Linked DNA regions of Homo sapiens. The main gene of each other region encodes a partner of the protein of the gene in region 3 in a complex. Each region holds a gene or a part of one and is shown on either strand. Other genes may lie near its edges. The genes, in order: PRPF6, SNRPG, USP39 and SNRPD3.

Region 1 (7,037 bases), on a different chromosome or scaffold from region 3:
GACTGGGGCAGCAGAAGCAGGAGCCAGAGAAGGGCCCCAGAGAAAACCAGCAGGCTGCCTGTTCTGACACGAGACATAAAAACTTTTAATGAAGGAGGACACAGCTCAGAGCCCTTCCACATGCGGCCCAACCCTGCCCCACGGAGACCGGCCATGGCAACCGCTCAATCAGAAGGTGTTCTTGATGCGGCCGGCCACCAGCCTAAGGATGTCCCCGATCTTCTTCTGCCAGTTGGCGATGTCCTTGGACACGGCGCACCACAGCTCCCCATGCCGAGGCTCTGCACTCTCACAGCGCTTCCTCACCTCCTCCTGCTGCTCCTGGGGGGACCACAGGGCACGTCAGGCAGGGGTCCTCCCACGCTACTCCCCGGACCTCGCCTGCTTCTCGCCTGGCCCCTGCAGACCTGGCCCTGGCAGCACCAACCCCAACTGGCGGGCCAGAGGGCACAGGCCCTGCACCGGAAGGCAAGGCTCTTTCAGGTGTGTTCCTCAAAGGAGCCCCACCTCCTGAGGAGCATGGACCCCACCAGCCTCAGCCCACAGATGAGGAACTGAGCCAGGCTCCCCATGTCTGTGCCTCACACAAGTGCTCACGTCTGCCTTCTCCAAACAAGGAGTTAGGGTTCACGTGGGCTGGCAACACTTTCCAGGGAGGACCAGGACAGCCTGACTGCCTCCAGCACAGCTCAGACAACGCTTGGCTCTAGCGGGGCGGGTGGGAGCAGAGGGGCTGCTGCCCAGGCTGTCCTAGAAAGCCACACTCAGGCTCAGGCCCAAGAAAAAGGCCAACTCCATTCCCATTCCTAAAGTGAGCCCAGGCTCCAGCCAGCAAATAACTCGTTAAAATACTCCAGCAGACAGGCCACCCTAACGGACAGGGTGCCTCAATTCCAGGGTGTGGAGCTGTGAGGCTATAACCAGAAAACGGATGTGGAGGCAGAGACTGCCTTGTGGGGAGGTGTCGAGGATTCTGTGCCCCACACACCCGGTCCATCCTCCCGACCCCGGGCAGAGTCACGCTGGCCGTGGCCACCTCCTAGAGCCCCCAGGGCTGGCGGAACTCCCCGCCACAGTCCCAGAAGGCACTGAGCGGCGGTCTGTCGAGGGGCCTCACCTCAGTGCCATGCTGCAGCTCAAACTTGTAGAAGAAGGCCCAGGCATCCCCCAGGTCCGAGTCAATCTTCACAGTGCGGTGGAACCACTCCCTGGCCTTGGTGATCTTCCGCTGACTCCAAAACAGCCTGTTCCAGCAGAAGGACGTGAACCCAGAGTGAGTGGCTGCAGGACGGTATTCTGGGGCAGGGGAACGGCTTCAGGGCCATCAGCTTCATCCCTGACCCGCAGCCCTGGTGCTCCCCTCAAGAAGGCCTGAGGATCAGGGCCTCGGCTGATCCAGAAATAATTACCCCAGATCATTAACTTGAAGCTGCCCTTCACGGGTCTAACCAAATTGGTTTTTTTTTGTTGTTTTTTTTTTTTTTTTTTTGAGAAGGAGTCTCGCTCTGTCGCCCAGGCTGGAGTGCAGTGGCGCGATCTCGACTCACTGCAAGCTCTGCCTCCCAGGTTCAAGCGATTCTCCTGCCTCAGCCTCCTGAGTAGCTGGGATTACAGGCATGCGCCACCACACCCGGCTAATTTTTGTATTTTTAGTAGAGATGGGGTTTCACTGTGTTGGTCAGGGTGGTCTCAAACTCCTGACCTCATGATCCACCTGCCTCAGCCTCCCAGTGCTGGGATTATAGGCATGAGCCACCGCACCTGTCCCAAACTGTTTCTTAAAAAATTCACACGCAGGGAAAGATCTTCCAACTCCGTAAAATTAGGGTCAGATACAAGGAGATGAAACTAAACCTGACACAAAATTAAACTGCAACTTTGATGAGGGAAAGTTATACAGTTTCAGCTCCTCACTGAGACACCTGCTGGATCATCCTGCCCCACCCGGCCTCCAGCAGCAACCCCAGTGAACACTGAGAAGATGGGCTCCAGGCAGCACAAGGGCCTGGGCCTGCAGCCCACAGCCCTCAGGCCACTGGATTCACACCGCCGTGCCTGCCAGACACATGCACACCTGAAAAACCGGGCCCGAAGAGGTCCATGCTATGAGAGGCCAGGTAAGGGTGTGCATGGCACCCCCACCCGCTGCTGGAGAAGGGATGGCGGGCGCTGGCTGCTGAGCATGCTGGCAGGCCCGGGACTCTGCGTTGCTGCCACCCTCTCCTCAGGGTCACCTCCCCCTGGAGCCAGAGGCACCGTAGTCAAGAGACAACACGAGGAGCCTCCACTCCGGGCAGCTGTTCGGGTTCGTCTCAGTTGCCAAACGGAATAATTTCACACTCTGATAACCTGATTGTTTTTTAAGCCTTGTGGTATTCTTAATTGCCCGGTGTTAGATAAACTGTGATTTAAAGAGCACAAACCCAGATAGCAGACACACAAAACACTGGCTTGGGAATAGCAAGGAGTGACTTATTTACTTTAGCAAAGCCTTTTATAAGGTTTTATGGCTGCACTATCAGAGTGTCACCCAGAAGTCACTCTGGGAGGTGAACGCACAGGGCAGGACCAAGGTAGCACCAGGCAGACACAAGCCTCCCTGTGGGGAGCCTCTCTCATCTGTCGGGGGCCTGCGGGCAGGGGAGAGGAGGTGCCCCTACAGGCAAGCCTGTGGGGGCGGCACCCAGACCTCTGGAGACCAAGCACCACTGCCACCCAGTGCTGGGGAGAAGGGATGGAGAGAATCAAAAGCCAGCACTAGGAAGGCTGTTGTCTCTGCATGACCCATGGCGGGGCAGGTGGAGGGGAAGCCGGACACAGGAGAGCTCCTGGGGCCAGACACGCCACCTCTGCCAGGTGAGCCCACGTCCTGAGCTGCAGCCTCAGGAACCCAGGGTTCTTCCAAGAACTCCCTTCACCCCACATGGTCACTTCCCAGCCTCCTGACCCACACTCAGGCCCAGCTCCTTCCCAGACTGTCATCCTCTTTCTAGAAGGAAACAGGGACCCTGGGGGTCGGGGATGGCCCTGAGCTCCCTGCTGTGCCCCACACCTGGCGGGTCTTTGCCCACATGTGCCTAGAGTCTGCATGCTCTGCCCCATGGCTACCCGCTGCTGCCTGCAAGGTTCCAGAGTCACGTCCCCAGTGAGTCTCTGACCCAGCGGCCAGCGCACCAGTGTGAATCACACGCGTCCCCAGTGAGTCTCTGACCCGGCGGCCAGCACACCAGTGTGAATCACATGTGTCCCCAGTGAGTCTCTGACCCGGCGGCCAGCGCACCAGTGTGAATCACATGCGTCCCCAGTGAGTCTCTGACCCGGCGACCAGAGCACCAGTGTGAATCACATGCGTCCCCGGTGAGTCTCTGACCTGGCGGCCAGCGCACCAGTGTGAATCACACGCGTCCCCAGTGAGTCTGTGACCCGGCGGCCAGCGCACCAGTGTGAATCACATGCGTCCCCAGTGAGTCTCTGACCACGGCACCCTCAGGTGTGTCTGCCAGGAGAGGCGCCTGCCCCAGACCACAGCAGGAGCGACGGCAGCCGAGGATCGGGGAAGCCCACCCTGCTGCCGGGCATCTTTACAATGACCAGGAAGAGGCAGACAGACTCTGGAAAAAGAGCCCATTAGGACCCCGAGGTTCAGCAATCCTGTGGGGGCCCCACTCACTTGGCCACGGCCAGGAGCACATGGGGGTCATGCTCACACTTCTTCAGGGCATCCACGCTCTTGGTCCTCCTCTGGGGCCTTGCCTCGAGGAAGATGGCCTCAGACCACAGGATACCTATAATTCAGAAACAAAGAACAAAGATTTGCACTCCAGCCTCTGGTTCCGGAAAGGTGCCCAGCCTACAGATTCTAACCCGGGACGTCCTCAGACCACGACAGGGGCCTCCCACACACGGCTCGCAGAACTTGTGCAAGGAGAACCACAAAGGATGAGCACTCTGGCCCACCCAAAACCATGGCAGCCCTGAGGGCACAGACTGGACACCCTGCAGAGTCTCACTCTGTCATTCAGGGTGGAGTGCAATGGCGCAATCTCAGCTCACTGCAACCTCCCACTCCCGGGCTCAAGCAATTCTCCTGCCTCAGCCTCCCGAGTAGCTGGGATTACAGGCGCCCGCCACCATGCCCAGCTCATTTTTGTATTTTAGTAGAGACGGGGTTTCACCATGTTGGCCAGGCTGGTCTCAAGCAATGGACTCCTGGACTCAAGCAATCCTCCCGCCTCAGTCTCTCAAAGTGCTGAGATTACAGGCATGAGCCACCACACCTGGCCAATTTCTTTTAAATTTTAAAAGAAAAAGAAATGATAACACTTCAGAAATGAAATCAAATTCTCCCATTTTGAGGCCAAGAATTTCATTAAGTTGTCTTAACGGCCGAGTATAGCTGAAACTTTTGACTGAAATGATTCACACAAACTACACATTTTAATAAAGTCCGTCTGAAGCCTGAGCCCCCACTCCCTCAGGAAGTGCCAGCCCTGCGGAGTCTGGGAAGCCAGGAAGCACCCCCTTACCGGAGTCAAGGCACCCCCTTACCGGAGTCAGGGCACCCCCTTACCGGAGTCGGGGCACCCCCTTACCGGAGTTGGGGCACTCCTGCAGCGCCTTGGCCATGAGTGTATTTGCGATGTTCTTCAGCCCCGCACGGTACTCCAGCCGCACGGACTCCAACCTGAGGAGACAGGCCCCCGGAGGTCCCACAGCCGTCTACCAACAGCACATATTCTGGTAGCTTCTGGGAAGCCTTGTCTGAAAGGGCTCTCCACCCAGTCACAGCAGCAAAAACTCCATTCCCTCCACAGCAGAGCTCATCCACCACAGAAACAAGGCGCTGGGGCCCACATCCCTGCCAGCCCCACTGGCAACCGCCCCAAGGCAAGACCTCAGATCCTGACGCTGTCCAGATGCAGGTGAAGGCATCCAGAACAAACAAGACCAGACTGGGAGAGCCAGGGCCGCACAAGGCACCCAGAAGCTGCCTGTCTGCGGCAGTGCCTGCACAGTGCTCCAGCCCCGTCACCCTGAGCTGGACGCAGCACCTCCATGAACAGAGCCTGCACCTAGCAGGCTCCTGTCCACCTCCAGGGCTCTCCACGCCACCTCCTCTGTGGAGCTGGCTCTCCGGGGTCCATCCTTCCCTCGTCCCAGCCATCATTAACCCCTCCCTCTCCCAGGCGCCCTCCATCAGAACACAAATTAAACTGCATCAAACCATCTACAGGCCTGTCACAGTACCTAGGCCGAACTCTCCTAAGGCAGGGACCGTGATTTTTCATGGCCAGCACCTACCGCCCCCCAAGCCCCTGAGCCTGGAAGCACTGCACGAGTGACTCCACACAAGCAGCTGGGTGACGGCGGCCCACCTGATGGGGAAGCTGTGCCCAGAGGCCAGGCTGCCCCCTCCAGGACTCACCACAGCCCAGGGTTCTTTGGGTTCTTCAGACGAGACTTTTCCAAAATGGCCCGTGCTCGAGTAAGCTGCCCAATCTTCTCCTCCAGCCGAGAGAGCAAAAGCCACAGGGGTGTGGAGTGGGGACACTTCTTCAACTGCAACCAACAAGTAAGAGAGCAGCTCAGGTGGTGTCTATGAAGAACTGGGACACAGCCATGCCCAGCTTCTCATCTGCAGTGGGTGACCGAGTCCCTCAGGGCTGCCATGTCCATGGAAAAACACCCCTCACACTCTGCATTTGTGGGTGTACAGGTGTGCGGTGGTGCTGTGGACCTGTGCACACAGGTCTGTACGTACCAGCCTTTACTGCAGGTGTGCCACACTCTGCACTTCTGAGCAGTGTGTGCAGCTTCATATAAGGAAAAGCACAGAACTCAGCGAGGGGACCAGGGTTTGGGTCCTGAGTCTGCAGCTCCATCAGCTGTAACCCCCAGCCCTCCACATCTCCTCAGAGGCGAAGGGCAATGACCCTGCACCAGGGGGCTCAGTTTTGTGAATGCCGGGTCAGCTGCAGCCCCAGGGTGCAGGCAGAGACGTACCCCCTGGTTATAGGCTTCCCGCGCCTTCTCCATCATCTCCTTCTGCTCCTCGATCTGCCCCTTCATCATCCACAGCTTGGGGAAGTCCTCATAGTGCCGCAGGGCCTCCTCGCACAGATCTTGGGCTGCCCTGATGTTGTCTTGCACCCACTCCAGCTTCACAGACTTCATGAACACCTGTGGGGCAGACATGCACTGTCACGCAGGGCATCAGCTCCAGGGTACGTGCTTCATGGTACACTCATCCTCAACACTGTTACCTGCAGTACTGTGTGTACTTTTGTAAGCTTTTCATAGCCTGTTTGTGTACACAAAAGGTGGGGATAAATATATGTTTTTGTTTTGTTTTGTTTTTTTTTGAGATAGAGTCTCGCTCTGTCACCCAGGCTGGAGTGCAGTGGCACGATCTCGGCTCACTGCAAGCTCCACCTGCTGGGTTCACACCATTCTCCTGCCTCAGCCTCCCAAGTAGCTGGAACTACAGGTGCAAGCCACCACACCCAGCTAATTTTGTATTTTTAGCAGAGTTGGTCAGGCTGGTGTCGAACTCCTGATCTCACAATCTACCTGCCTTGGCCTCCCAAAGTGCTGGGATTACAGGCGTGAGCCACCACACCCGGCCGTATGAACATGTTTGTTGTTGTTGTTGTTGCTGAGACAGTTTCCCTCTTGCTGCCCAGGCTGGAGTGCAGTGGCGCGATCTCAGCTCACCGCAACCTCCACCCCCGGGGTTCAAGCGATTCTCCTGCCTCAGCCTCCCGAGCAGCTGGGATTACAGGCACGCACCACCACGCCCGGCTAATTTTGTATTTTTAGTAGAGACGGGGTTTCTCCATGTTGGTCAGGCTGGTCTCAAACTCCCACCCTCAGGTGATCTGTCCGCCTTGGCCTCCCAAAGTGCTGAGATTACAGGCGTGAGCCACCGCGCCCGGCCACCACGCCCGGCCACATGAATGTTTTAGTCACATCACAAAGATGAGTGTGCTGTGGTCTCGTTTGCCTGCCGTCATCTCACTCCCATCACCACCCAAGCC
Region 2 (2,916 bases), about 15 Mb from region 3:
ATACTGGTGTGTAGTCCATTCTGTACAGTTTAAAAGTGATTCACGATTTGCAGGCTTTTTATCAGATCACAAAAAAATCAGTCTTTAAGCATTTGCTTGGTAAGGTTTCTTAAGATTAGGTTTATAATACAACCATCTGTAATGTATCTCTCGTTTGAGCTTGTGGGCCATACAATTCATTAACTAGATGAATACATTGTGGACAGCATCCTCACTACCCCTCTCTACTCACTCACAAAGAACCATGATACACTGGAATGTTTTTCTCTGGAATCCTCTTTCTACTCTTGTATTAAAATTTTTCCCCACTTCATGATTATATTCAAAATAAACAACTACATCATTACTTCTTGTCTTTTGCTTCTGTTGTACTATATTTGGAATGTAGATGTACTTGGGAAAGTCAGGCTAGATCAAAGTTACTATTCTTACAAGTTTTGAAAATTAGTGTTTTAGAAGAAACTCACTCATGTTTGTAACTTCTTTATCTGTTCAGTGTTGAAAGATGATGGACAGAAGGAATCCTTGCCATGTTTCACATTTAATAAGATTCTTTCACTTTAATGCATAAAACCCTTTGAAATCAATGTCAACCAGGAAAATTCATGTTAGAAAAAACTGGAATGAGAGCTGATATTCTATATTCAGAACATCTGAGAAAGCATTTTTGACTATTACAAAAGTTTATTTAACAAAAAGTCTAATATGAAAATGTACATGACCTAATTTTTACATCATAGTAAAACAGGCCCTATGGAGAGAGGACATGGGTTTCTCTGCTGAACAGCCATTATTTATACTCGTTCCAAGGCTTCTAACATGATGATACTATTTCCTCGTATTACCTAAGAAAGAGAAAAATAAATTTGAAAAGAACAACTCAGGTAACAGACATAACTATGATGATTTAAGAATTTTCACCAAATCATTAATGGTTTTTTAATATTACATGTCGGTTTGCAAAGCTTTGTTCAAGCCACAGGGACACCAAACAACTCTAAGCCCTTTATACGACAGACATCTTTTGGATTTAAGGCTAACAATTTGCTTTATGAGATTCTAATGCCAAGTCTCCAATGACTAATTTCACCTTTTTTTTTGAGACAGTCTCACTCTGTTGCCCAGGCTAGAGTGTAGTGGCGCAATCTCGGCTCACTGCAGCCTCTGCCACCCAGGTTCAAGCAATCCTGCTTCAGCCTCCCAAGTAGCTAGGATTACAGGAGCCCTGACCACGCCCAGCTAATTTTTATATTTTTGGTAGAGACGGGGTTTCACCATGTTGGCCAGGCTGGTGTCAAACTCCTGACCTCAAGTAATCTGCTTGCCTCAGCCTCACAAAGTGCTGGGATTACAGGCGTGAGCTACTACGCCTGGCCCTAATTTCACCTTCTAAAATGCAGGACTCAAATTTAAATGCCCATCCCTGACTCTATGGGATCCAAAAATTAATGAGTAAAATATGTACAGTAGAGTATGTTAGGTACAGTTTGGAGGTATGAGATCATTTAGGGAAGAAACCAGGATGGGAAATTGTGAAAGGCATGCTTTATGAAAATGACATTTTACCTGGGTCTTGGAAATTGGGCAGAATTTTGAAAAGGAGATTGTAGGAAATTCTAGACAGAACTAAGATGAAGACAAAGTATGAGAGGATAAGGAAGTAATCTAATTTGAATGCAGTAAAAAGTTCACGAAGAGAATCAGGAAACAAAGATAGTTGGCATTCAATCTTGGAAAGCTTCAAATGCCAATCTTAGTGTTTGGAGGACATCAGAAACTAACAATGAGCCAGTGAGAGTTTCACTTGGGGGAATGACAACCATAAGTGTCCCTGCAACAAGATATTATATAAATACGCCGAAGTTTGAATAGGACAGAACCTAGAGGCAGAAAGAGAAGTTATAAAAAAAAGGCCCTAGGAGAACAGTGCTTGACCTAGTAGATAAGCCATAAATGAAGATAAGAATATTTATCGGGGGTGTGGTGGCTCACGCCTATAATCCCAGCACTTTGGGAGGCCAAGGCGGGTGGATCACCTGAGGTTGGGAGTTCGAGACCATCCTGGCCAACATGGAGAAACCCCCATCTCTACTAAAAATAAAAAATTAGCCGGGTGTGGTGGCACATGCCTGTAATCCCAGCTACTCAGGAGGCTGAGGCAGGAGAAATCACTTGAACCCGGGAGGCGGAGGTTGCGGTAAGCCAAGATAGCGCCACTGCACTCCAGCCTGGGCAACGAGCGAAACTGTCTTTTGTCAAAAAAAAAAAAAAAAAAAAAAAAAAAACAACAAACCAAAACCAAAACAAACCAACAGACAAACTTATCAGAGTATAGATGAATCAGCTGGTAAATGAATTCAAGAGGGGTAGAAAAATAAGCGAAACTGGAAGGCTAGGGGACTAAAAACAGTAAGTCCCTAATAGACTGGAGATCATCATAATCGATAGATCACCCATCAGTCAAGTAGAATTGGATAGGTGAATGGAGGGGTACGGGAGGGAAAGAATAGGTAATGTAGGGGAGAGAAAGGTAATGTAATAATTTGAGGTGTTTATTAGAAATGGAGGCATTCCAAAAAGATTCAAAGTGGAGCTATGCTTATAGGCAGCTAGAGTAAAAGTAGTTGTAACTTATTCTTTTCTCACAGTATCATGCTTGTTTTATTTACACATACGCTATGATTTATTGTGTTCTCCATACAAATGTAAATTTTATGAGGGCAGGGACTTAGGTGCAAAACCCCAGTGCCTAAAATAGTAGCAGGCACACAGAGGGCTCAATAACCTGGTAAATATGAATAAAAGAACTCACATGTGATTACTGCAGCTGACAGAATAGAAGGGAACACAATTGGTAGGATAAGTGTCTTGGAACCTGGCAGCCAATTATCAGCAATGAGTATGATAAGGTAGTAA
Region 3 (7,037 bases):
TGGGCACAGGGGCTTACGCCTGTAATCCCAGCATTTTGGGAGGCCGAGGTGGGCAGATCACTTGAGGTAAGGAGTTTGAGACCAGCCTGGCCAACACAGTAAAACCCCGTCTCTACCAAAAATACAAAAATTAGCCAGGCCTGGTGGCAGGTGCCTGTAGGTCCCAGCTACTTGGGAGGCTGAGGCAGGAGAATCACTTGAACCCAGGAGGTGGAGGTTGCAGTGAGCCAAGATCATGCCACTGCATTCCATCCTGGGTGATAGGGTGAGACTCTGTCTTAAAAAAAAAAAAAAAAAAAAAAGCAACAGGTCATCAAGAAAAGGTGTCCTTGGTGGACACTGTCTATCACACTAACCTGATTCCTTTGGCCTAAGAAACCAGTGCTACAAATACAGCAAAACGTATCTCACTTCATGCTTCCATGAACAAGGAAAAAATGTTTCTAGATTAAGGCAGAGGCACCTCTGGCCGCCCACCTGTCTTATCCAACCAAAGTTCTAAGAAATACCAAAGACCATTATTGTAGAATATAAATATTCCAGATCCTCTGGATATTACAATAGTTGAGAATATAGGAAACATAAGGAAAGCTCAGGATCACATAAGTAAGTTCCCATTCCTGCTTCAAGGACGAGTTAAGAACATGGGCTTTGAAGCAGAGTACCTGGGTCAAATCCTAATTCTACTGACTTGAGGTCAATTACTGAAACTCTGAGCCTAGGTCTCCTCCTCTGTAAAAAAGATGATACTGACATCTGTCTTGGAGGTGTGTTTTAATGAAAGAAATGAGATTAATGTACATTAAGTAACTGGCGTACTGCCTAACCACAATAAAGCACTTGATAAACAGAAGCTAGTTAAGATTAAACCCACAGTTCCAGAAGAGGCTAATCAAATGAGAACAATTTATGCTAATAATCTATGTGATATCAAATATATCTCAAGTACATGTTTTATCTGTTTTCAACTTGAGACAAATCCACAACATTTTTAAGATGAAAGGGAGCCTCTAAACCAGTGCTTCGCAAACTTTAATTTCTTACAAATCAGAGGGTCACGTTAAAATCCAGGTTCTGATGTGGTAGGTTTGAGGGGACTGAGAGTCTGCATTTCTAACAAGCTGATTTCTAACAAGACTGATGCTGATGTTATTGGTCCAAGGATGCATCCCACTTTGGATGGTAAGGCTCTAGTCTAGGGCAGAGGTTCTCAACCTTGGCTGCATATCAGGGTCTCTCAGGGAACTTCAAAACATCAAATGCCAGCCAGGCATGGTGGCTCATACCTGTAATCCCAGCAGTTTCAGAAGCTGAGGCGGGAGGATTGCTTGAGACCAGCATGAGCATCATAGCACAACCCCATCTCAATTAACTTGAAAAATAGAAAAGACATCAAACAGAAAAGACATCCACCTCCAGACAATCTAACAGAGAGCCTTTAACCTTAATGCTGACTGATGTTTAGGGTCAGATAATTCTTTGTAACACGGGCTGTCCTTCGTGTTGTAAAATATATACCAACATCCCTGGCCTCTGCCCCAGCTGAAAACTACTATTATAACCGGCCTGGTGTGGTGCCAGGCATTGGGATTTTAAAAAGCTCCCGGTTGGCGCGGTGGCTCACGCCTGTAATCCCAACACTTTGGGAGGCCGAGGTGGGTGGATCACAAGGTCAGGAGTTCAAGACTGGCCTGGCCAAGATCGTAAAACCCCGTCTCTACTAAAAATACAAAAATTAGCCGGGCGTGGTGATGGGCGCCTGTAATCCCATAATCCCAGCTATTCGGGAGGCTGAGGCAGAGAACTGCTTGAACCCAGGAGGCGGAGGTTGCAGTGAGCCAAGATCACGCCACTGCACTCCAGCCTGGGCTACAGAGCGAGACCCTGTCTCAAAAAAAAAAAAAAAAAGCTCCCAAGGTGAGTCCAATGTGTAGCCAAAATTGAGAACCACTGCCTTAAACTAACTACTGACAGCACTATTACTTGCAGAGTCCCAAAGCCAAGGCCAAGCAAGGACACACTGAAGGGAGCTGCCCTCTGAGATGCCAAAGAAACACCTGTTTTTGCCACTCTGTGCCATGAGACGGTCAGCAGCCACTCACATGATGAAGCACGTGGATCCGGTAGGAGCCCTCGGAGGGCTTGCCGTCATGCACGATGTTGGCAATGAGGTCATAGGTGGTATTCTTGTGTACTGCTTGTACTTCTTCAGACAAGTATTCTCTCAGATCCACATTTCTGTTAATGGTTAAAATAAAGCCGGAATAATCAGACAAAGGCTGTGAGGTTAAGGAAACTGTCCTACACAAACGGACCACAAAATTGTTCAGCCCTATTTTAGGACCCTTTCTCTGGGTAGGCTTGCAGAGTCAAGAAGGTCCAGGTGCGTTGGAATTCACAAAATATGCCAAAATGAATGACAGGGTTACACAGCTTCCCATATGATTTAAAAAAAAAAAAAAGAATGACAGGCAGTGGCTCATACCTATAATCCCAACACTTTGAGAGGTCAAGGTAGGAGGACTGCTTGAGCCCAGGAGTTCAAGGCCAGCCTGGGCAATGTAGTGAGACCCCTACAAAAAAAAAATTAGCCAGGCATGGTGGTACATGCATGTGGTCCTAGCTACTCAGGAGGCTGAGGTGAGAGGATCACTTGAGCCCAGGAGATTACGGCTAAAGTGAGCCAGGACCACACTATTGCACTCCAGCCTGGGCGACAGTGAGACCCTGTCTCAAAAAACCCCCAAAAGGAAGAAGAACTTTCAAATAGTTAAAAAGGAAAATATATAGACAGTTAACAAGAATATTAAGATTAAATACATAATTTTAGGAAAAATATATCATTTTGGAGTCTACAAATATTTATAAAAACTTACACAATACAAGGTAAAATAAAAAAAAAGACATTGCATCATAAAAGTTGTCTGATGTGCTACCACTCATTACATGAAACAAAACCATGTTATCACTGGAAGAGTTCACAAGAAACAGCTAATGGTGGTCACGTCCAGTTATATATCTCCCTTTGAAGTTAGACTGTGAACATATTAACTGTTCAAAATTACAGAGTTTAAAATGTAAACCATGTGGTAATAAACAAACATACAACTTTGTTGTAATTATTATATGTAGCTTTCTATGTATTGGTGACAGCTATTTGTTTCTACAGACTGACAGTGTCCCATATATGATGCAGTCAGACTGCAATAAATATTCACTGTTAAGAAAATGGAAGCCAGGTGCGGTGGCTCATGCCTGTAATCCCAACACTTTGGGAGGCCGAGGCGGGCAGACTGCCTGAGCTCAGGAGTTCGAAACCAGCCTGGGTAACATCGTGAAACCCTGCCTTTACTAAAGTACAAAAAAAAAAATTAGCTGGGCGTGGCGGCGTGCACCTGTAGTCCCACCTATTCCGGAGGCTGAGGCAGGAGAATTGCTTGAACCCAGGAGGCGAAGGTTGCAGTGAGCCGAGATAACGCCACCGCACTCCAGCCTGGGCAACAGAGCGAGACTCCATCTCCAAAAAAAAAAAAAAAAGGAGATATGAGTCCTGAGTCCATGTGAGCTCTAGTCAGCCAACCTGCCTTCCTGCTACTAAAGGCTGACTTCTCATTTTATTTTCTCTTCAGCCTGAACAAAAGCTGACTAGACTTGTCTGAATGAGTATCAGTGAAGAAGTCTTTTTTTTTTTTGAGACAGAGTCTCGCTCTGTCGCCCAGACTGGAGTGCAATGGCGCTAGCTATCTCAATTCACTGCAAGCTCTGCTTCCTGGGTTCACGCCATTCTCCTGTCTCAGCCTCCCGAGTAGCTGGGACTACAGGCGCCCACCACCATGCCTGGCTAATTTTTTGAATTTTTAGTAGAGACGGGGTTTCACCGTGTTAGCCAGGATGGTCTCGATCTCCTGACCTCGTGATCCGCCCGCCTTGGCCTCCCAAAGGGCTGGGATTACAGGTGTGAGCCACCGTGCCTGGTTTGGAGAAGTCTTTATACTCAAGATTTCATGACTGAACCAAAACTGTCCATGCGGCAAAAGAGAAATACTACGTTTAATCATTTTGTGTTAGTAAATAGGAAAAGGAGCAAACTATTCATTTTTTTTTTTTTTTTAGTAGAGACAAGGTCTTGCTATGTTGTCCAGGCAGGTCTCAAACTCCTGAGCTCAAGCAATTCTCCCACCTCGGCCTCCCAAAGTGATGACATTACAGATGTGAGCCACTGCGCCCAGCCTAAAAGAGCAAACTATACTCATCTCCCAACCACAGCAACAGACCAGTTAAGAGAATGGCTAATTACCTGAAAGTGAAACTTTAAACCTGCCCTCAAAAATCTCTATCTCCAAATAAGCAGAGGGTGCCTAATCACCATAAGTCTGATAACTCTCCGACAAAAACAGGATGTGTTATGAATAAAACATAGGAGAAGACAGGTATGAAAAAGATCCTTTTCAAGAAGTATGGACAATGAAATGATCCAGAATTGTATTACTCGAAGTAATTACAGCACATAAAATAATTAAAGTGCAAGTTTCCAGAATTAGTCACAATTTGATGTTCTCTAAAAGACTGCGTAGTTAAGAAACAATCTTTTTCTCAACTTCTCCGAAGTAAGCTTTCTGAAGGACAAACTTTTATATTGGGCCTACTCTAGGCCCATAAAAGAAACCAATGGGGCAAGGAAATTTCTGTGGCAACTGAGCAGGAAGTACCATTGATACACAATCTTCCTCCCTCTGGAGTTGCCCTTGGAATCCAGACTGCCCCTACCTACCAGGAACAGACAGGTGACTGGCAATTCACAAGAGGCTAGTGCTGAAATAAAACTTTGACACACAGACTTTCGAAGAAAGCACCTCTGTCATCCTACTCAAGGAGGCAGAGAACAAACCTCCATGTCCCCCCATTTAATTCTAGTCACAAACAAGATGCTAGTGGAGAAAAGTGTAGAAAAAGAGAAAAAGAAATTCCCCTGTAATTCTCAACTGCAAATGTTCTCTCTCCTCACCCTCCATGATTCTAAGAGTCCTGGCAATACTATAATAAGATGTTACACCTGGACAAACCCCTAGGGCTCAGGCCCATCTACTCCAAGCCTCTCATTTTATCTATGAGAGAACATATCCAGAAAACACGCAAACTATGGGTCTGAGGTCCCACCACTAAGACAGCCTAAAACTCAGGCCTCTTAATTTTAGATACTACTTTCTTAAACACTACATGGAATTTAAAACTGACACTATTTTCTTTCTTTCTTTCTTTTTTTTTTTTTTTTTTTTTTAGCACAGTCACACTCTGTCACCCAGACCCAGGCTGGAGGGCAGTGACACCATCTCAGCTCACTGCAGCCTCAATCTCCAAGGTTCTAGCCATCCTCCTGCCTCAGCCCCTCAAGTACCTAGGACTGCAGGTGTGCACCACCACATCTGGCTAATTTTTTGTATTTTTTTGTAGAGATGGGGTTTTGCCATGTTGCCTAGGCTGGTCTTGAACTCCTGAGCTCAAGCGATCCAGCTGCCTTGGCCTCCCAAAGTGCTGGGATTACAGGCGTGAGCCACCACGCCCAGCCAAACATCTTCTTAAGTATGAAAAACCTTGTCTCTTGAGAACTGAAAACCAACAGTCTACCCCCAAAAAGGATCTTGCAGAAGTTTTCTGAGTTGGAAGGAAGCAAACTAAAAGCATCTAGTACAACTCTAGTGTGCAAAAAGGTGTGATGGCCAGCAAATAGATGGGCAGACCCTCACTACTCAGGACATCTTCCAAACCAGGCAGAATCCTACCTGTCTTATCCTACTTGCATCATTTCTTCTTCTCTACGCAGGAAGACTATAATTTCCAGCTAGCAACAGGAGAGAAGATAAAATAGGGATTGCATCCCAATAAACATCAATCTTTTGTGGTCCCTGAAATAAGTGTATCCTTCCAATAAAAACTCTTATCTACTGTAGGTAGGCTCTGTTCCTTGTAATCCCCAACTAAGACAGTCCAAAATTAATACTGGTAAAAATACAAGAGAAGAAATCCAGGTTCACTCCCCGTGAGAGAAGTGAGGCAGGATGTTACTTACGTAATAGGGAAATTGACAATAGTTGGATTCTTCTCAACAAAGAAGTTGTTCTTAGTGAATCTCTTGATACAAAAGATTAGATATGGAGGCAACTTGGTAAGCTGGAAGCGCTTCAGAAAGTTCTCCTTGTAAGTCTTATATTCCTAGAGAAAGAAAAGAAAATTCTCAAATTAGTGCTGAAGTTCAGTAGTATTAGAGCAGGGGCATGAGTTTTTCATTTCGATTTTTTAAAATATAATTTTGCCTCACACTTAAGTTCACAAGACTCCTGGTCCGAGAAATTATGTATGAGGCTTAGGATGTGCAGTTTGGCTAAGGCTGATTTAAAAAAAAAAAAAAAAAAAAAGGCCGGGCCTGGTGGCTCACACCTATAATCCTATCACTGTAGGAGGCCGAGGCAGGGGGATCATTTCAGCACAGGAGTTCGAGACCAGCCTTGACAACATGGTGAAACCCCATCTCTACTAAAAAGGAAAAAGAAAAAAAAAGAAAAAAAAAATATATATATATATATGTAAAGAAAGAAAACTAACCAGGCACGGTGGCTCATGCCTGTAATCCCAACACTTTGAGAGGCTGAGGCAGGCAGATCACTTGAGGCCAGGAGATCGAGACCAGCCTGGCCAACAGGGTGAAACCGCATCTCTACTAAAAATACAAACATTAGCTGGGCATGGTGGCATGTACCTGTAGTCCCAGCTACTCGGGAGGCTGAGGCAGAAGAATCGCTTGAACCCGGGAGGTGGAGGTTGCAGTGAGCTGAGATCACACCACTGCACTCCAGCCTAGGCAACAGAGTGAGACTCCATCTCAAAAAAAAAAAAAAAGTATGTCTCCCCACTTTTTGGAGTTTCTCCTCTCCTAAATGACCTTCCTTTCTCTATACTACCCCAGAGGCAGGCAGAAAGCTGAAAACAGGATATATGAGAAGTACAAGAGGGGGCACTGTGGTTGGGCAGTGGTTCACATC
Region 4 (7,037 bases), on a different chromosome or scaffold from region 3:
CTGGTTTTGAACTCCTCTCAAACAATCCTCTACCTCAGCCTCCCAGAGTGCTGGAAGCAAGCCACTGTGCTGAGCTGCTGGTCACCCTTCCTACATTAACAACTATGGATGTGCCAATCAATGCTGAGATGCTCTGATATGCTCCCAAGAATCTGTTTCCACAAATCACCACAAAACTACTTGTTGTAGCCAGTATACGAGCCAAGGAAGCTGGCCACTAGGATCCCCTGAATTACTTTTTTTTTTTTGAGGTGCAGTCTCGCTCTGTCACCCAAGCTGGAGTACAGTGGCATGATCTCTGCTCACTGCAATGTCCACCTCCTGGGTTCAAGCGAATCTTCTGCCTCAGCCTCCCGAGTAGCTGGGACTACAGGTACATGCCACCGCACCCGGCTAATTTTTTTATTTTTAGTACACACGAGGTTTCACCATATTGGCCAGGCTGGTCTCGAACTCCTGACCTCGTGATCCGCCCGCCTTGGCCTCCCAAAGTGCTGGGATTACATGCGTGAGCCGCCGCACCCAGCCCCTGAATTACCTATGACTTTATCAAGGGAAAGAGTCACCTGTGTTGTTAAAGCTGAGCTGATGACAGCTCCACAAATGTTAACTGAACAAAGTGCCACACTATGTGCCTGTGTCTGAAGATGAATGAGACACAATCTGTGTGTTCTCGGAGCTTCTCCAAGGTGAACTTTTCTGGGGCTTAACCTGCAACTGGCCAGGAACAGCAGCTTAAAATCTCATCAATAGCTGTGCTATTTCAAAGTACTGGCATTCTCCCAGGACATCCCCCAGGGTGTCAAAATTTAGCCAAAGCAAACTTCAAATGAACACAAAGTCCTTATTTTCTCAAAGAAAACAAAACAAAACAGAACAAAAAACCCCCCAGATTTATTTAGCTTAAACATTTCCCCTGATCTAAAGAGAAAGATGGCAAAAGATACCTAGCATATATGCACAAGCACCCACTCCAATGAACTCAGATAACCTGAAAGAAAAAAGGACAAAGTTCTGTTCAACTTAGAAAATTATCTTCGCTTTTGAAAGATGTTTCCACGTCCCATTCCACGTCCTCTTCCTCTTGCGGCCACTGAAAGGGAAGAGAAAATATGAGGCCAGGTCAGTGTGGTCGGTGAATGCTCATAGCACAGAGTAGCCAGGGCCCTAGGACACCAGTTAGAAGGGTTCTGAAGGGTTACCTGGTCCAACACCACCCTGGCCATTGCATTTCCACCTCCCGCCTTTTTTTTTTTTTATTTTTTGAGACGGAGTCCCACTCTGTCACCCAGGCTGGAGTGCAGTGGCATGATCTCGGCTCACTGCAATCTCCACCTCCTGGGATTAGGCGATTCTCATGTCTCAGCCTCCTACTTGAGTAGCTGGGACTACAGCCGTGAACCACAACGCCCGGCTAATTTCCTGTATTTTTAGTAGAGACAGGGTTTCACCATGTTGGCCAGGCTGGTCTTAAACTCCTGACCTCAGGTGATCCACCCACCTCGGCCTCCCAAAGTGTCAGGATTACAAGCATAAGCCAACACGTCCAGCTGACAGCCACTGCATTTAACAGGGGGGATGGAGACGGAGGGGCAGGGGCTGGGGACTGGCATCAAAGCAGGAGCTAGCAGCACACTCTTGCCTTCCAGTCCCACACTGCTCTCTACAAGAGGCTGGGAGGCAGCATGCTGAGGGCAAAGAAGGTGGTCTGAGAGCTACAGAAAAGACAAATCCTTGGGGCTGGCCTTGGGTGAGCTGAAAAACATTATAGATGCACTGAATTAATTTTTTCAATTCTGAAACAAATATAGTTAAGTGTTAACATGTGTTAGATCTGGGAGAAGGGTTATATTATCTTTTGTATTTTTTTCTGAGAAAATAATTATTTCAGGCTGGGTGCAGTGGCTCATGTCTGTAACCCCAGGGCTTTGCGAGTCCAAGGCAGGCAGATCACTTGAGGTCATAAGTTTGAGACCAGACTGGCCAACATGGCAAAACCCCTTCTCTACTGAACACACAAAAATTAGCTGCACGTGGTGGTATGCGCCTGTAATCCCAGTTACTTGGGAGGCTGAGGCAAGAGAATCACTTGAACCTGGGAGTTGGAGGAGGTGGCAGTGAGCTGAGATCAAGCCACCGCACTGCAGCCTGGGTGATGGAGACTCAGTCTCCAAAAAAAAAAAAAAAAAAAAAGAATTATTTCATAGTAGCAAAAAGAAAACACACTCCATATAAATAGCATGATAAGACTGCTGTTCTCCTCTGTAACCCAGGGGTTCTAGGAGAAGACAGGCTTTGAAGAACAAATAAAATATTCTTTTTTTTTGAGATGGAGTCTAGCTCTGTCACCTAGGCTGGAGTGCAGTGGCACGATTTCGGCTCACTGCAACCTCCACCTCCTGGGTTCAAGCGATTCTCCTGCCTCAGCCTCCCGAGTAGCTGGGACTACAGGGACCTGCCACCATGCCCAGCTAATTTTTGTATTTTTAGTAGAGACGGGGTTTCACTGTGTTGGCCAGGCTGGTCTCGAACTCCTGACCTCGTGATCTGCCCACCTCGGCCTCCCAAAGTGCTAGGATTACAGGCATGGGCCACTGCGCCCGGCCCCTCACACTATTACATCTTTAAACTTGAGCTTTCATCTATGGTTCCCAGCTCGTAACTCCTATAGTCCTTGTTATAGTCTTTTGTTATAACATTGGGGCACTTTAGGCCTCAGAAGCAGGACTCAGGAGACAGAATCTCTCTCTTGAAACTTCTCCTGCCCTCCTTTCACCTGCCCAAGGCAGGACCCTAATCTGATTGTGGGTCATAAGACCTCACTCCAGAGAAAGGTCCTGCCCTATACCCTGGAGGAACAAATGCTGCAGAGAGAGGCCAAAAAGAATCTGGACAGGCCTCGCGGGGTTTCCCAACCCCGTCTATTAGTGTTAGATCACACCCATTTTGTCTAATGGCATTTCCACATGGTTGTCCATCCTTTAATCATGACTATCCAATAAAGTCTCCATAAAAGGCCCAAGAGGGCAGGGTTAGGGGAGCTTCGGGACAGCTGATCATGCGCAGCCTGACAGGAAGGTGAACAAGAACTCATCCATGTGCCGGGAGGAAACTCCATGGGGCTAGAAGCTCTTGTGCTTGCGACCCTTCCAGATCTCACCCTATGCATCTCTTCATGTGGCTGTTTATTTGTAGCCTATAAAATATCCTGTTATAAACCAGTAAATTTAAGTATGTGATTCCCGAGTTGTGTGAGCTACTCCAGCAAATTAATCGAACCCAAGGAGTGAGACGTGAGAACCCTGGCTTGAAGCCATTCAGATGTTCTGGAGGCCTGTGCTTATGAATAATAGTGGGGGGTGCAGGGGCTGTCTTGTGGGACCGAGCCCTCAACCTGTGGTTTTTCAGGCTATCTCCAGGTAGATAGTGTCAGAACTGAAGGACACCCAGCTGGTGTCTACTGCAGAACTGACTGCTTGCTTGGTCACAGAAGTCTTTGTTGATTGTTGTGTTGTGAGAGCAGAGGAAAAACACAGTTTGACTTTTTTCCTCACACACATATAAAACATGTACAGCAGCTAAAGATACCAATGAAGAATCCAGTGCCTTCCTTGGCTGCAAACCTTTTTTACCAACACTAAGACAGTTTCCAAGGGCCACAATTACTTTGTTGTCTAATCAACATGACAGAACTTTCATGAACCTAAATATAAAACCAAATTAGGCTAACCAAGAAGCAAGACCAGACTAGGGGACTGCGAAAAGGACAGTCCCACTTTTGGAATGTACTAAAAGGTGGCTTTATTTCTGAAAACGGAGCTCCACTATCAGACCTCCCTAAGTACATGCTGGTGTCCATCCATAAGACCCAGTCTCGCTAGGAAATGCTGCCCTCACACTCGAGTCAGCTCATCTGCTCCGGGCTGTGTCTGCTCGGCAAACTAGACAAGGGCAAGCGATCCCACACCTCTCACACAGAACTTCTAGAAAAGATGGGCCTCTCCAGGTGCGGTGGCTCACACTGGTAATCCCAGCATTTCAGGGGGCCGAGGCAGGTGGATCATGTGAGGTCAGGACTTCAAGACCAGCCTGACCAACATGGTGAAATCCCATCTCTACTAAAAATACAAAAATAAATAAATAAAATAAAAATAAGCCGGGCGCAGTGGCTCACGCCTGTAATCCCAGCACTTTGGGAGGCTGAGGCAGGTGGATCACAAGGTCATGAGTTCAAGACCAGCCTAGCCAAGGTGGTGAAACCCCGTTTCTACTAAAAATACAAAAAGTAGCCCGGCGCAGTGGCGGGTGCCTGTAATCCCAGCTACTTAGGAGTCTGAGGCAGAGAACTGCTTGAACCCGGGAGGCGGAGGTTGCAGTGAGCCGAGATCACGCCACTGCACTCCAGCCTGGGCGACAGAGCGAGACTCCATCTCAAAAAAATAAAAAAATTAAAAAAAATTAAAAATAAAATAAAAATAAAAATAAATTAAAAATAAAAAAATTAGCTAGGCAGGGCAGTGCGCACTGTAATCTCAGCTACTTGAAAGGCTGAGGCAGGAGAATTGCTTGAACCTGGGAGGCAGAGGTTGCAGTGAGCTGAGATCACACCATCGCACTCCAGCCTGGGTGACAAAGCGAGACTCTGTCTCAAAAAAATAAAATAATGGCCTCACAGGATCACTCCACGCTGCAAGGGGAAGGGGTGGCAGTGGGTGGTGGGTGTGGAGAGAGCAGAGGTCAAACCCTCTCTGTCTCCAGGCAGTAATAGGGCCCCTTTCTACAAGACACAAGACAAACCTATATTTTAAAACCTGTGCATGAAAAGCACCTACCTTGGGCCTTGAGAATAGCAGCTTTTCCTCGGCCAGCCCCTGAGCCTTGGTTTTTATTTTTCATGCTCTTTAACATGGGTGCGTTCTTCAGCATGTCAGGCAAAATCAGAAAGCGGATTTTGCTGCCACGGATGTATACCTGCTCCAGCTGTGCCACTCGGCCATCTCTGTATGTGACTGTGATGTTGGACATCTGGAAGGAAATCACCAGCTAATAAGTTAACGGTCAACAGCACCAGCGGTGGGGAGGGCCTTGACTGGTGGGAGGGGGAAGTCCAGAAAAGCAGACTGACATTGTGACAAAGCTGGTGAATTACCCAGCAATCATCGGTACTAACTGTGTACACCAGGGACTGCACTGAGCACTTTACCTAAACAGTCCTCACAACACCTTCAGCGTGGGTATGAGTGCTCCCCCCCTTTTTTTTTTGAGATGGAGTTTCACTCTTGTTGCCCAGGCTGAAGTGCAATGGTGCAATCTCGGCTAACCGTGACCTCTGCCTCCCGGGTTCAAGCGATTCTCCTGCCTCAGCCTCCTGAGTAGCTGGGATTACAGGCATGCGCCACCATGCCCGGCTAATTTTGTATTTTTAGTAGAGGTGGGGTTTCACCAGGTTGGACAGGCTGGTCTCGAACTCCTGACCTCAGGTGATCTGCCCGCTTCAGCCTCCCAAAGTGTTGGGATTACAGGTGTGAGCCACTGCGCCCAGCCGAGTGCTCCCATCTTTACATGTTAAAAAAACCAAAGCAGTTATCCCAGGTCAAACAGCTGGAATGCAGGGAACTCCAGATTCGAACCAGCTGGCCTAGCTTCAGAGCCCTGGCTGTGCTGCACTGCCTGCTGAGCAAAGATGTGAAGAGCTCTTGAAGGTGCTAAACCCTAACGAAAACAGCTTCAAACTGCTGGTCCAAACTGTCTTCCCCTGCACTGCCTGGCACTCAGATTTCAAAGGCACCATGAAGGTCACAAGTATATACCAGATGTGGTTCTGACCCTCCAGAGTGCATACTCTAGAAGGTGAGACAGAACCCTCTAGGTTGAGTGACTAGGGACTGAGAAATGGAGGTGGTACCACAAGGCCTGTAAAAAGGGCCTGAAATTACTGGAGGGTTATGAGGCAAGAGCTTGCACAAGGAAAAGAGCAGGCACTTGGGCAGGAGCCTACAGGATGTGAGGACCAGAGCAGTCGAATAATGACACTGGACGGGGTCGTTACTTCAGATAAAGGAGTCAGTCAAGTTTGTCGATAGAGGAAAGATCAATAGGGTTAAGGCAGCACTCAGGAAAGATAAATGTGGCAACAAGGATAGACTGCAGGATGGACAAATGGGGAGCCTGAAGGTGAGACCAGCTTGGCATGGGAGGGTGATACCAATCTGCCAGCATCAACCTCAACAAGCACCACATTTACAGAAAAAGCAGCTTATTGTATGAACCTTCTGAAGAGAGAGAACTATAATTTATTTAGAATGGGTCAGCCCTTATTGTAGAAAGATGTGCTGTCTCTGCAGATTTCTGTCTGGCTAGCTGCCATCTTATACTCATTCATTCTTTTCCTCAAGTGCTAACTGGCCACCCAGCCTCTGCTTGAACACTCAGAAAAGAACAACTATGGGCCAGGTGTGGTGGCTCATGTCTGTAATATCAACACTTTGGGAGGTCAAGGTGGGAGGATCACTTGAGCCCAGGAGTTTGAGACCAGCCTGGGCAACACAGTGAGACCTCATCTCTACAAAAATTAGCTGGGTGTGGTGGCATGTGCCTGTAGTCCAGCTACTCGGGAAGCTGAGGTGAAAGGATCACTTGGTTCTGGGAGGTCGAGGCTGCAGGGAGCTGTGATGGAGCCACTGCACCCTAGCCTGGGCCACAGAGCAAGATCCTCTCAAAAATAAAACAAACAAAACTATGCTCTGGGGCCGCCCCTGTTGTATATGAGCAGTTTCTAGAGGAATGGTTTCTAGAGCTTCTACCCACTATCCCTGTTCTACCTTCAGGGGCAACAGGGCTCCAGTTTCTCATAAACCTTCTGCTCCAGGCTCCTCACTCCCAGCCTGTTATTAAATTTTCATCCAGTTCCCAAGTCCTTACCAATCCTTTTCTTCCCCTGAAGAATACCATAACCTCTAGTGCCACAAATGAACGCCAGGTTTATGGTCAGACTACCCAAGACAGAAACTGGATACAACTCAGGCTCACCTGAATCT

The links.
Region 1: USP39 (region 3) and PRPF6 share a complex: the UniProt entries of both Homo sapiens proteins name them as parts of the U4/U6-U5 tri-snRNP complex.
Region 2: USP39 (region 3) and SNRPG share a complex: the UniProt entries of both Homo sapiens proteins name them as parts of the U4/U6-U5 tri-snRNP complex.
Region 4: USP39 (region 3) and SNRPD3 share a complex: the UniProt entries of both Homo sapiens proteins name them as parts of the U4/U6-U5 tri-snRNP complex.

Annotation. Positions count from the first base shown.
Region 1 is NC_000020.11:64,026,125-64,033,161, reverse strand, and holds the end of PRPF6 (pre-mRNA-processing factor 6), read right to left. Parts: intron 6,181-7,037; coding exon 6,004-6,180; intron 5,560-6,003; coding exon 5,426-5,559; intron 4,685-5,425; coding exon 4,593-4,684; intron 3,786-4,592; coding exon 3,671-3,785; exon of another isoform or gene 3,477-3,670; intron 3,371-3,476; exon of another isoform or gene 2,354-3,370; intron 1,245-2,353; coding exon 1,118-1,244; intron 322-1,117; coding exon 169-321; 3' UTR 62-168; downstream 1-61. UniProt on the Homo sapiens protein: Involved in pre-mRNA splicing as component of the U4/U6-U5 tri-snRNP complex, one of the building blocks of the spliceosome.
Region 2 is NC_000002.12:70,280,840-70,283,755, forward strand, and holds the end of SNRPG (small nuclear ribonucleoprotein G), read right to left. Parts: intron 846-2,916; coding exon 795-845; 3' UTR 523-794; downstream 1-522. UniProt on the Homo sapiens protein: Plays a role in pre-mRNA splicing as a core component of the spliceosomal U1, U2, U4 and U5 small nuclear ribonucleoproteins (snRNPs), the building blocks of the spliceosome.
Region 3 is NC_000002.12:85,640,149-85,647,185, reverse strand, and holds part of USP39 (ubiquitin carboxyl-terminal hydrolase 39), read right to left. Parts: intron 6,211-7,037; coding exon 6,068-6,210; intron 2,239-6,067; coding exon 2,103-2,238; intron 1,373-2,102; coding exon of another isoform or gene 1,304-1,372; exon of another isoform or gene 1,287-1,303; intron 1-1,286.
Region 4 is NC_000022.11:24,565,972-24,573,008, reverse strand, and holds part of SNRPD3 (small nuclear ribonucleoprotein Sm D3), read right to left. Parts: intron 5,026-7,037; coding exon 4,833-5,025; intron 1,094-4,832; coding exon 1,032-1,093; 3' UTR 1-1,031. UniProt on the Homo sapiens protein: Plays a role in pre-mRNA splicing as a core component of the spliceosomal U1, U2, U4 and U5 small nuclear ribonucleoproteins (snRNPs), the building blocks of the spliceosome.